2 linked regions of the Homo sapiens genome follow. The protein of the gene in region 2 purifies or fractionates together with the protein of the main gene of each other region. This does not show direct contact. Each region holds a gene or a part of one and is shown on either strand. Other genes may lie near its edges.

Region 1 (3,822 bases), on a different chromosome or scaffold from region 2:
ACTGACTCTCAGTACCTACTGGGGAGCCTGAGTCAGAGGGGACATGAGTTTTCTCGGGGTGCTCTCAACTCTCTCTGCTCCCTTCAAGGCCACTCTGTCTCTGAGCTTATCCGCAGCACCTGCCCAGGCTAGAGCCCTGGATACACCCCCTAGGCTCGCCCGGCCTCCCTGCCTTGCTGTCCCCACTCGGCCTTCCCCACTGTGCAGGCCGCAGCTTCGTCTGTTCAGTAGGGTCTGGTAGAGGGGATGTTCGAATGTAGGGGAGAAGGTGGAGAGGCTGTGGGGAGCCCATTCTAAGACTCTGCTGTTGACAAAAGGAAAAAGGGGGCCTTGTAGAAACCACCCAGGGTGGGTGGGGGCAGGAGGGGACAGGGCGCTGGCATCTCACTCTTTTCCTGCCAGCTTTTCTGCTGACATGGGCCAGCTCCATCCCATCATAGAGGGCAGCTCTGGGTTCCAAAAACTCCAGGGCTGGTGCTTCCTGCGGCAGGGGCCACCCTGTGGCTTAGCAGGCAGCCAGCTCTGCCCAAGGAAGCCCAGGGCCTGTCTCAGTGTCCCCTCAGACTGCTGCATGGCCTGGGGGAAGGGCCGTTGAGGGTCTTGGCTGCTGCCACTGCAATAACAGGACTTCTCCTCTCACAGAGACCAGCTCTTCGGCCACCAGCTACAGCTCTGAGTTCAGCAAGCGGCTGCTAAGCACCTATATCTGTGAGTGTTCTCCCGGGCAGACCAGCAGCCCTGCTGCCTGCATGCCCTGCCTTTCCCTTCCTTCTGTCTGTGCTCTCTGGCTATTCCCAGGGCCCTCTCCTAAGTGCCATCTGATCTTTGGAACCACAACCTGACCTCTAGTTCAGAGGCTGAGGGGAGTTGGGCTAAGGCCTCCTGAGGCAGGACGAGGAGCGATGGATAGGAGCGCGTTCGCGGGTCCTGGGGTGGGGTCGTTTGGGTCAGACTGCCATGGTGGGTGTGGCCCCATTTTTCCCTGTGCAGGTAAAGTGCTGGGCAACCTGCAGTTGAACTTGCTGAGCAAGTCCAAGGTGTACGAGGACCCAGCTCTGAGCGCCATCTTCCTGCACAACAACTACAATTACATCCTCAAGTCCCTGGAGAAGTAAGTGGCCTGCGGGAGTGAGTCTGCGGCTCTCACCTTCCCCTCGGCTGTGCAGCTGTGCCAGCCCCTGCCCCCCTGGGCTCCTTCTCTTGTGGACGAGAGGGGAGGGGGTGCTTCAGTCTCCTCCACCCCAGGACCCGGAAGGTGGGATGCCATAGAGCTTGTGGAGTTTGGGGTGCAATGGGAGGCCCTCCCGGCATTGCCGCAGCCTTTGGGCCTGAGGAGCCAATCCTGTCCTCCTCTCCTCTGTCCCCTACCCCGACCCAGGTCTGAACTGATCCAGCTGGTGGCAGTGACACAGAAGACTGCTGAGCGCTCCTACCGGGAGCACATTGAGCAGCAGATCCAGACCTACCAGCGCAGGTGAGAGGCTGGGCCCGCCCTGCTCCTGCATGGGCCCCTGTGCCACCACGCACTCTTCCTTCTCAGCACCTCAGGACACAGAGTCGGTCACGGGGAACTCCTGTCCTCTGGACCCTAATCCTCCACTTGGTTTCTAATCAAACTCACGGGGTGGAGAGAGAAGCCCCCTCCTCTACCACTACCTGCTCCTAGGGGCCCACTATGGCCACTTTAGAGGGGAGTCTGCCAAGTGTCAAGGCTAAGAATGATTGAAGAGCTGGCTCTCAGAGACGTGGGTAATGTTTACCTAGGAGAAGAGCAAGGTCGCGAGAGCACTTGAACGTGGCTGAGCCTTGCTCTGTGAGGATCCCGCTGCTTCTCTGGTCCTCTTTCTTCCTGGCTTTGTTTCTTCCCTTTGAATGTGTCTACCTCTTCCTTCTCATTTATCTGCCCTCCACTCCTTTCTTTCTCATCTGTTTCTCCATCTTAGTTTGCCACGATATTGATGTGAAGTATAGTTGACAGTATTTGTCCAATTTATTGAACACTCAAGTGTTTCCTAATGTTATCTCAAAAAGTGACCAGTTTAAAGATTTTCTCTTCCCAGGAAGAAAACCTGTTGTTTGCTTAGTTGTGACCCACATCCCTTCCTACCACCACCCACCAAGTAGATCCAGAGATTTAGCAAACGAAACAAGCCAGGCCACTGAGGCAGGCCACCCTCTGCCCTCATGCTTCTCTTTCTGTCTGGCAGCTGGTTAAAGGTGACTGATTACATCGCAGAGAAGAATCTACCTGTGTTCCAGCCGGGAGTCAAGGTGGGCTCAAGACCTGGGCTGGGAAGGGGTGTCTGGCAGACGGGATACTTTTTGTCGTGTCTCTGGGAAAAAGTGGACAAGCATCCCTCTGGGATCAGAGAGCAAAGGATGCATGTGGCCATCAGGACACAGGAGACAGGCCCAGACCAAGGGTGTTTGGGGAAGAGTGGGGGAAGGCTGCTCTGCTCTGAAGTGAGCTTTCTCTGCTATCTCTCCTGGCTTCCCAGCTCCGGGACAAGGAGCGGCAGATTATCAAGGAGCGTTTTAAGGTGAGTCGGGGTCCTCTCCCCTCCACTGCTTGCTGCTGCTGTTGAGGCAACACAGACCCAAAATGTTTGTCTCTGGGTGCCTTCCTTTTTCACCTTTTTGGTGGCCAGGGCTTCAATGATGGCCTCGAAGAACTGTGCAAAATCCAGAAGGCCTGGGCTATTCCAGACACAGAGCAGAGGGACAGGATTCGCCAGGCCCAGAAGACCATTGTCAAGGAGACCTACGGGGCCTTTCTACAGAAGTGAGGCCTCCATTCCCCTCCCAGCCTGTGCTGCCCACAGCCCCAGTGGGCCTCTTCAAGCTCCTCTTCCTCAAGGGAAAAAGGAGAAGGGTGGTGGATTTAGGCAGCAGATCCAGCGACCTGGGCTTTGGGGCGGGGCCAGACAGGGAATCGCTCAGGGCCACCCCTTCCAAGACTATCAGGAGTGCCTTAGGCTGAGGGTGGAGCTGGGGAGGGGTCGGCCCTCCCTGTCCCCTGACCACAGTGCCTCCTCAGGTTTGGCAGCGTGCCCTTCACCAAGAACCCGGAGAAGTACATCAAGTACGGGGTGGAGCAGGTGGGCGACATGATCGATCGCCTTTTCGACACCTCTGCCTGAGCCTGCTGCTAGCCCTGCCTGGTTCCACCAGACTGGCGTGTCATTGGACAGATAAACCAGTGTTAGCTTGCCTCTGGGCTGGGTGAGCTTGAAGTCCTCTGGGACAGAGACCTGTCTCCACGCCTCCGGGAGCTGTGTCCCTGAGCCCCCTAGTCCTGGCTCCTGCTTTTTCCCCACAGCCCGTGTTCCCAGCCGAACCAGCACTCTCCCGGAAGCCTGGGGTCCCTCCACACCTTGGCTTTTATGACCCTGATGGCTTCTGAAACAGGAAAAGAGAGAAGGAAGACAGAGGCCTGTGCCCACTGCTGCTCCATGTGTACCAAGAGCAGCAGGGCAGAAGGGCCCTCCCTCCAGCCTAGGTCAGAGGTGGGGACAGAGAACTCCCCTACAGCCCAGAGATGTGGCAGGGCTCAGAGAAGCAGCCAGAGCTCCTGGAGGAAAGGCAGTCGGGACTGACCCCCTCTCTTAAAACACATTCCCGCCCGCCCACAGGCCTGAGGTCTGGGACCTTTCCCTCCCAGGAGTCCCCTAGGTGGCTGGGGGAGGCAGGCTCACTGGCCATTTTCCCTAGAGTCCAGCACACTGCAGGAGGCGTTCGGAGGAGGAGTTCCGCCCCACCCTCTACAGCCTTCCTCAGGCCCCTGTCTCTGGCCCCCAGCCTCAGTGCCTCTTGGCCCAGGGC
Region 2 (5,536 bases):
TTGATACTTTCCTATGATCTGGAGAGAAAGAGATGGGGGTGGGTTGGGCTTTCTGGTAGCTCTGTGTCTCCCTAGAAGTCTGGAAGTTTCCTAGATCCGAAGCTGGTAAGAGGTCAGCTATGAGGAGCTGACTCTGGGACAACTCCTCTTGCTTGTGGGGAGGGAGCAGGATGGACAACGGGGAGGGGAGGGTGTCAGCAAGGAAATGGAGCTGTGTTTCCTGGATGGCCGCGGGTGGAGATACCATCCTGCTGACCCAGCTGCAGGGTGCAGGTCTCAGACCTTGGCTTCGCCCCCACCCCTGCCATCCCCATCCGCCTTCACTTATCATGGCTGTGCATAGGATGCACAGCTAGGGAACGTCCTGCTGGGGCCGCCTGGTTCCTTGGCCTCTGGCCTCTTGTCCCCATAACCTGCATAGTGAGCTGGAAGATCAACAAGCTCACAAACGCAAAAGGAGTTTTGTGAGGTTCCTGCAGAGTTCACTGTTTCCAGCCAGAGTGATTTATGAAATGAATGTGTCTAGTTTCCTCTGCCGAGCACCTCTTTAGCCTCAGCTCCCTTCCCAATCCCAGCTGGAAGTGCAGATTTTTAAAAGATCCAGAGTCCATGGCTATCTCTTCCATTTATTTCACCTTTTTTTCTGCATTGCTCCTTAGACACAAGGACCGAGACAAATAGTACAACACTGAGGGCCTGCTCTCTATCGCTCCTGATCCTGTCTCTCTCTCCACACCTCAGTATTTTAAGATAGATTCAAAATTGACCACGAGTGCTTTGACCCTCCCCTCTACATCCCCCCAAATCTCCCACCTATACTCTCACCTGTGCCTTTTCCTTCACTGTTGGAGGAGTCTGGCCTCTACCTCAGCTGGGTGTAAGAGGCTGAGTGGGAGAGATGGGGGAAGTATTTGGAAGCAAATGGTGTGCCTGAAAGCTCAGGCTTGGCTCAGGGTGGGGGGCTGCTGCAGCAGGCTGGCTATCACCCTTGGTGATGATGATGGAATGCTGGGTGGAACAGGAGGAAGAGGAGGCGCATGTGCCCGCCTTGGTCTGGTCCTTAGGAAGGTAATGGACTACAGCATTCAGGAGCCGGCCCCGGAAGTGTGGGCTGAGAAAGTTGTAAAGGATGGGGTTGATGACACAGTGCAGCATGGAGAAGCAGTCAATGACATCATAGAAGAAGTAGAGCAGGTGGACCAGGTGGCAGTGGAGGGAGATGTGGGTCCCATGCAGTGTGAGCAGCAGCAGGGTCACATGATAGGGCAGCCAGCACATGACAAAGACGGCCACGTAGGCGCACAGCAGCAGGCAGTGGCGCCGGCTCTTGGGTTGTCCTGGCTGCCGCAGCCGGCAGGCTGTCAGCACATTGAAGACTGTGATGAGAGGGAAGGGCAGCAGGAAGCCCAGGATGGTGGTGGACAGGGCCACCGCCAGGGCCCAGGTGCTGTACGTTTCAAAAGGTGCCATGAAGAGGCACATGGGCTCAGGGCCCTCCACCAGCTGGATGTGGACCACCTCAGGCAGCGGGATGATGGCCGAGAGGACCCAGATGCCTGCACACATGGCCCGCCGCACTCGGTGCTGGTAACGCTGCCAGGAGGGGGAGGCGCTGGTGAGGGTGACATAGCGGTCGACACTGAGGCACACCAGGAAGAAGATGCTGCTATACATGTTGACAAAGTAGAAGTAGTGAGTGAAGCGGCAGGAGAAGCTGCCCCAGAGCCAGGTGTAGTCCAGCGTGACCTCCAGCATCCACACGGGCAGAGACAGGACAATGCCCAGGTCCGCGATGGCCATGTTGAGGATGTAGAGGTTCATCAGCCCTGCCCGGCCTGAGCCGCGCCAGTTGACGCATATCACCAGGAGGTTCTCCACCAGCCCAACCACAAACATGGCCAGGTAGAGGGCAAAGAGGACCACGCGCTTGGTGCTCTGGCTGAGCTCCACGTGGCACTCAGACAAAGTGTGGTTGAAGAGGTCAAGCAGCTCGGTCCAGTTGTGGATCTCTCCAAGGTCACTGGTAGGCACTGCGGTGACCCCCTCCGAGGGGCCAGGCCCCCAGCTGGGTTTCACTGACATTGGGACCAGCACACGCCTATTGGGATGAAGGGAGGGTTGGAAGGGAAAGCAGACCTCGAGAGCCTTGTGTCCTCAAGGTAGAGGCCAGAGGGAGTCGGGGGCTTTGGGGAAAGATTCTGGGGCTAAGGCAAGAAAGGGAAGTTTAGCTTTCAAACTGTGAATAAATAATACACAACTCACTTGCTAGCTCTGACCCAAGAGCAGAGATACTTTCTTAAGGGGTTTCAGCTGGAAGAGGCCAGGACTGTTGGTGTCCACCAACATTTCTCCCCACCCCCAGCCAGTTCCCCCTCAACAACCCCCTCAATCCCCCCACACCCACCATTCCTAGGTGGTCTCCAACCTCCACCTCTCTCCTGGCACTTCATTCCTCAGCCCTTTTGCACAGATCTTTATTGCTCTTTTTCTGTCTTGTTATTTGGACCGTGAGTGTGGAACACACACACACACACGCACACCACACAATCTGATTCATCCCTAGGAAAACCTGTGGATCATGCAGGATAGCCAGTTGTCTCCAAGCCCTGATTCCCATCTTCCCTGGGAGAGGGCGACACTCACCTGAGTTTCCCTTGGGAGCCCCTCGGTCCTGGAGGGAGGGCCGGCAGGTCCAGGCTATGGGGAGCTGTGAGGAGGCTGGGGGGCCCTTGGCTGTGGGGCTGGCTTCCCTGCTGGCTTCACGGCCGCCCTTCTCATCCGGGAAGTAGCTGTCACTGCTGAGGCTCTGTAGGGAGGGATGGGGTTTTTCCTGCATTCCCCCAATCCGGTTACAGGGGATGTCCCAGCAAAAGACCCGGTGTGCCAGTGGCGGGGAGGTCATACTGCCAGCATTAAAATCCCAGCTCCTCCCTCACCCGCTGAATGAATTTACCTCTTTCCTCAGCCTCAGTGCTCTCCTCTGCAAAGTGGGGTCTATTATCTACTAAAAGGGATGCTTTGAGAATTAAAGGAGCTGTTGAGGGAGGGAAAGTGCTTAGCTCAGGTGGGGCCTGTGGCAAATGCTTTACGTATGTATGTATTTTCCTCTCCCTAAGTCAGCTTGGAATCCCTCTCTCCCCTGTCTTGATTCCTACTAGAGTGAAATTGGATGTGGGGGTATAGGGGAGGGTCAAAATAAATCTGAACATCAGTTGGGCTTTTAATAACTCTGGCCCACCCCTGCCATTCTCCCCAGCCCCTCACAGGGCTGTGAGCTCCCTGCCTTCATCTTGTGATTGGAGGTGAGAATCTGGGAAAGAAAAGATTGAATGGCTGGGCATGGTGGCTCACGCCTGTAATTCCAGCATTTTGAGAGGCTGAGGCAGGAGAATCGCTTGAGCCCAGGAGGCGGAGGTTGCAGTGAGCTGAGATCAGGTCACTGCACTCCAGCCTAGGTGACAGAGTTAATAAAAAAAAATAAAAATAAGATTGAATGCGGGGTGTCAAGGGGGCTTTGTCAAAGCTTCAGGGAGATTCCTGAGTAGGGAGGGAGAGAGAGAATGGCGCCCTCCCCCTGTGGCTCTATACTTCTCTGCGTGAAGGGTGTGGTGGGTGGCTGGCAGGGGATGAGCAGGGGATGGGGCGTGGGGTAGGGAGAGCAGACTTCTCTCTCCCGCCAAGCTAGAGGGTAAGGGACTCTAAGCCACGTGTTATGGGTAAACATTTTGTGTCAGCAGAGCTTCCTGCCCTTCAGAGCGCTTTCACCTCACTTCATCTCGTTGGATTCTGGAGATACCCCTGTGGGGAGGATGGATTTCTTCACCCTCTTTGAGGCCCAGAGAAGTTGTCTGTTACACAAGCCACACTTGGCAGATGGCAGAGTGGCCTAGGCCTGAGCCAAAGGTGTGTCGGCTGGACGGGATTGAGTATATATTAAGTCGAGGTGAAATTCCCATAGCATAAAATTAACCATTTTAAAATGTGTGATTTAATGGCATTTAGACATGCACATTGTGCAAACACCACCTCTGTCTACGTGCTAAACATCTTCATTACCCGCAAAGAAAACCCCATAACCATTAAGCAGTCAATCCTATTCCCCCCACCACCAACCTTCTGCTTCCTGTCCCTGTGGATTTACCTATTCTGGATACTTAATAGAAAGGGAACCATATCATATGTGACATTCAGTGTCTGTGTTTTTTTTTTTCCACTTAGCATGTTTTCAAGGTTCATTCACTTTGGAGCATGCATCCGTACTTCATTTCCTTTCATGGCTGAGTAATATTCCCATATATATATATATATATATACACACACACACACCACATTTTCTTTATCCACTCAAAGAGAACATTTTTTAAAAGTTTGCTCACTGATTCTTTTATTATGGTAAAATATATGTAAGGTTTACCACGTTAACCATTTTTAAGTGTACAATTCAGTGGCGCTAAGTGCATTTACACTGCTGTGCAACCATCAGCACCATTTATCTCCATGGAAGGGAATATTTTTCATTTTGTAGTTTTGTAGTTTTCTTAAACCTTCCACTTACATATCAGATCACTCCAAGATCACAAAATCTATCATGGCCGGTGCAGTAGCTCACACCAGTAATCCCAGCATTTTGGGAGGCCGAAGTGGGAAGACTGCTTGAGCCCAGGAGTTTGAGACCAGCCTGGGCAACAAGATGAGACCCCCATCTCTACAAAAAATAAAATAGCCAGTTGTGGTGGTACAGTCTGTATTTGGGAGGCCGAGGTGGGAGGATCGCTTGAGACTAGGAATTCAAGGCTGCAGTGAGCCATGATCACCCTGCTGCACTGAAGCCTGGGTGATGGGATCTAGAGAGCTAGATCCCATCTCCTAAAAAAAAAAAAAAAAAAAAAAAATAATGGGCTAGGCTAGGTGGCTCATGCTTGTAATCTTGGCACTTTGGGAGGCTGAGACAGGTGTATCACCTGAGGTCAGGAATTCGAGACCAGCCTGGCCAACATGGTAAAACCTTGTCTCTACTAAAAATGCAAAAATTCCAGGCGTGGTGGTGCATGCCTGTAATCCCAGCTACACAGTAGGCTTAGGCAGGAGAATCTCTTGAACCCAGGAGGCGGAGGTTGCAGTGAGCTGAGATCACGCCACTGCACTCCAGCCTGGGCCGTGGAGTGAGACTCTGTCTCAAAAAAACAAAACAAAACAAAAACAAAAAACCATCATGATGAACCATGACAGTGTGAAATGTGGCTTACTTCGATTTTTCAGTTAGTTTTGCTCTTATTCTCTCCCTTTAGGGTCTTAGTTTCTATCCCATTGATATTTTTCTTCAGTAAGGAGCCTTCTGAGAATTTCCCCTTCCCACTACATGCTTTTGACCCATGCAAATGAAGCCTGTCCTAGATCAAGCACCCTCCAAGGAAGGCCCTGGTCTGGTCTTTGTCCTCTCCAGATGGCCACATCTGTGACCACTTCCGTTCCTCACAAGACTGCCCTTTAGTGGCTCCTGTCTCCTGGGTCTCTGAATTGTCCTTCCCATATGGAG

What was found. Proteins that work in one complex are often made in the same cells at the same time.
Region 1: the proteins of ACKR5 (region 2) and EXOC7 purify together in Homo sapiens (co-immunoprecipitation; 2 studies listed by BioGRID and IntAct, with this or other methods). This does not show direct contact.

What each region holds. Positions count from the first base shown.
Region 1 is NC_000017.11:76,082,966-76,086,787, reverse strand, and holds part of EXOC7 (exocyst complex component 7), read left to right. Parts: intron 1-642; coding exon 643-708; intron 709-990; coding exon 991-1,111; intron 1,112-1,378; coding exon 1,379-1,474; intron 1,475-2,207; coding exon 2,208-2,271; intron 2,272-2,498; coding exon 2,499-2,540; intron 2,541-2,648; coding exon 2,649-2,782; intron 2,783-3,037; coding exon 3,038-3,140; 3' UTR 3,141-3,822. UniProt on the Homo sapiens protein: Component of the exocyst complex involved in the docking of exocytic vesicles with fusion sites on the plasma membrane.
Region 2 is NC_000012.12:56,991,756-56,997,291, reverse strand, and holds the start of ACKR5 (G-protein coupled receptor 182), read right to left. Parts: upstream 2,801-5,536; 5' UTR 2,644-2,800; intron 2,099-2,643; 5' UTR 2,083-2,098; coding exon 868-2,082; 3' UTR 1-867. UniProt on the Homo sapiens protein: Orphan receptor.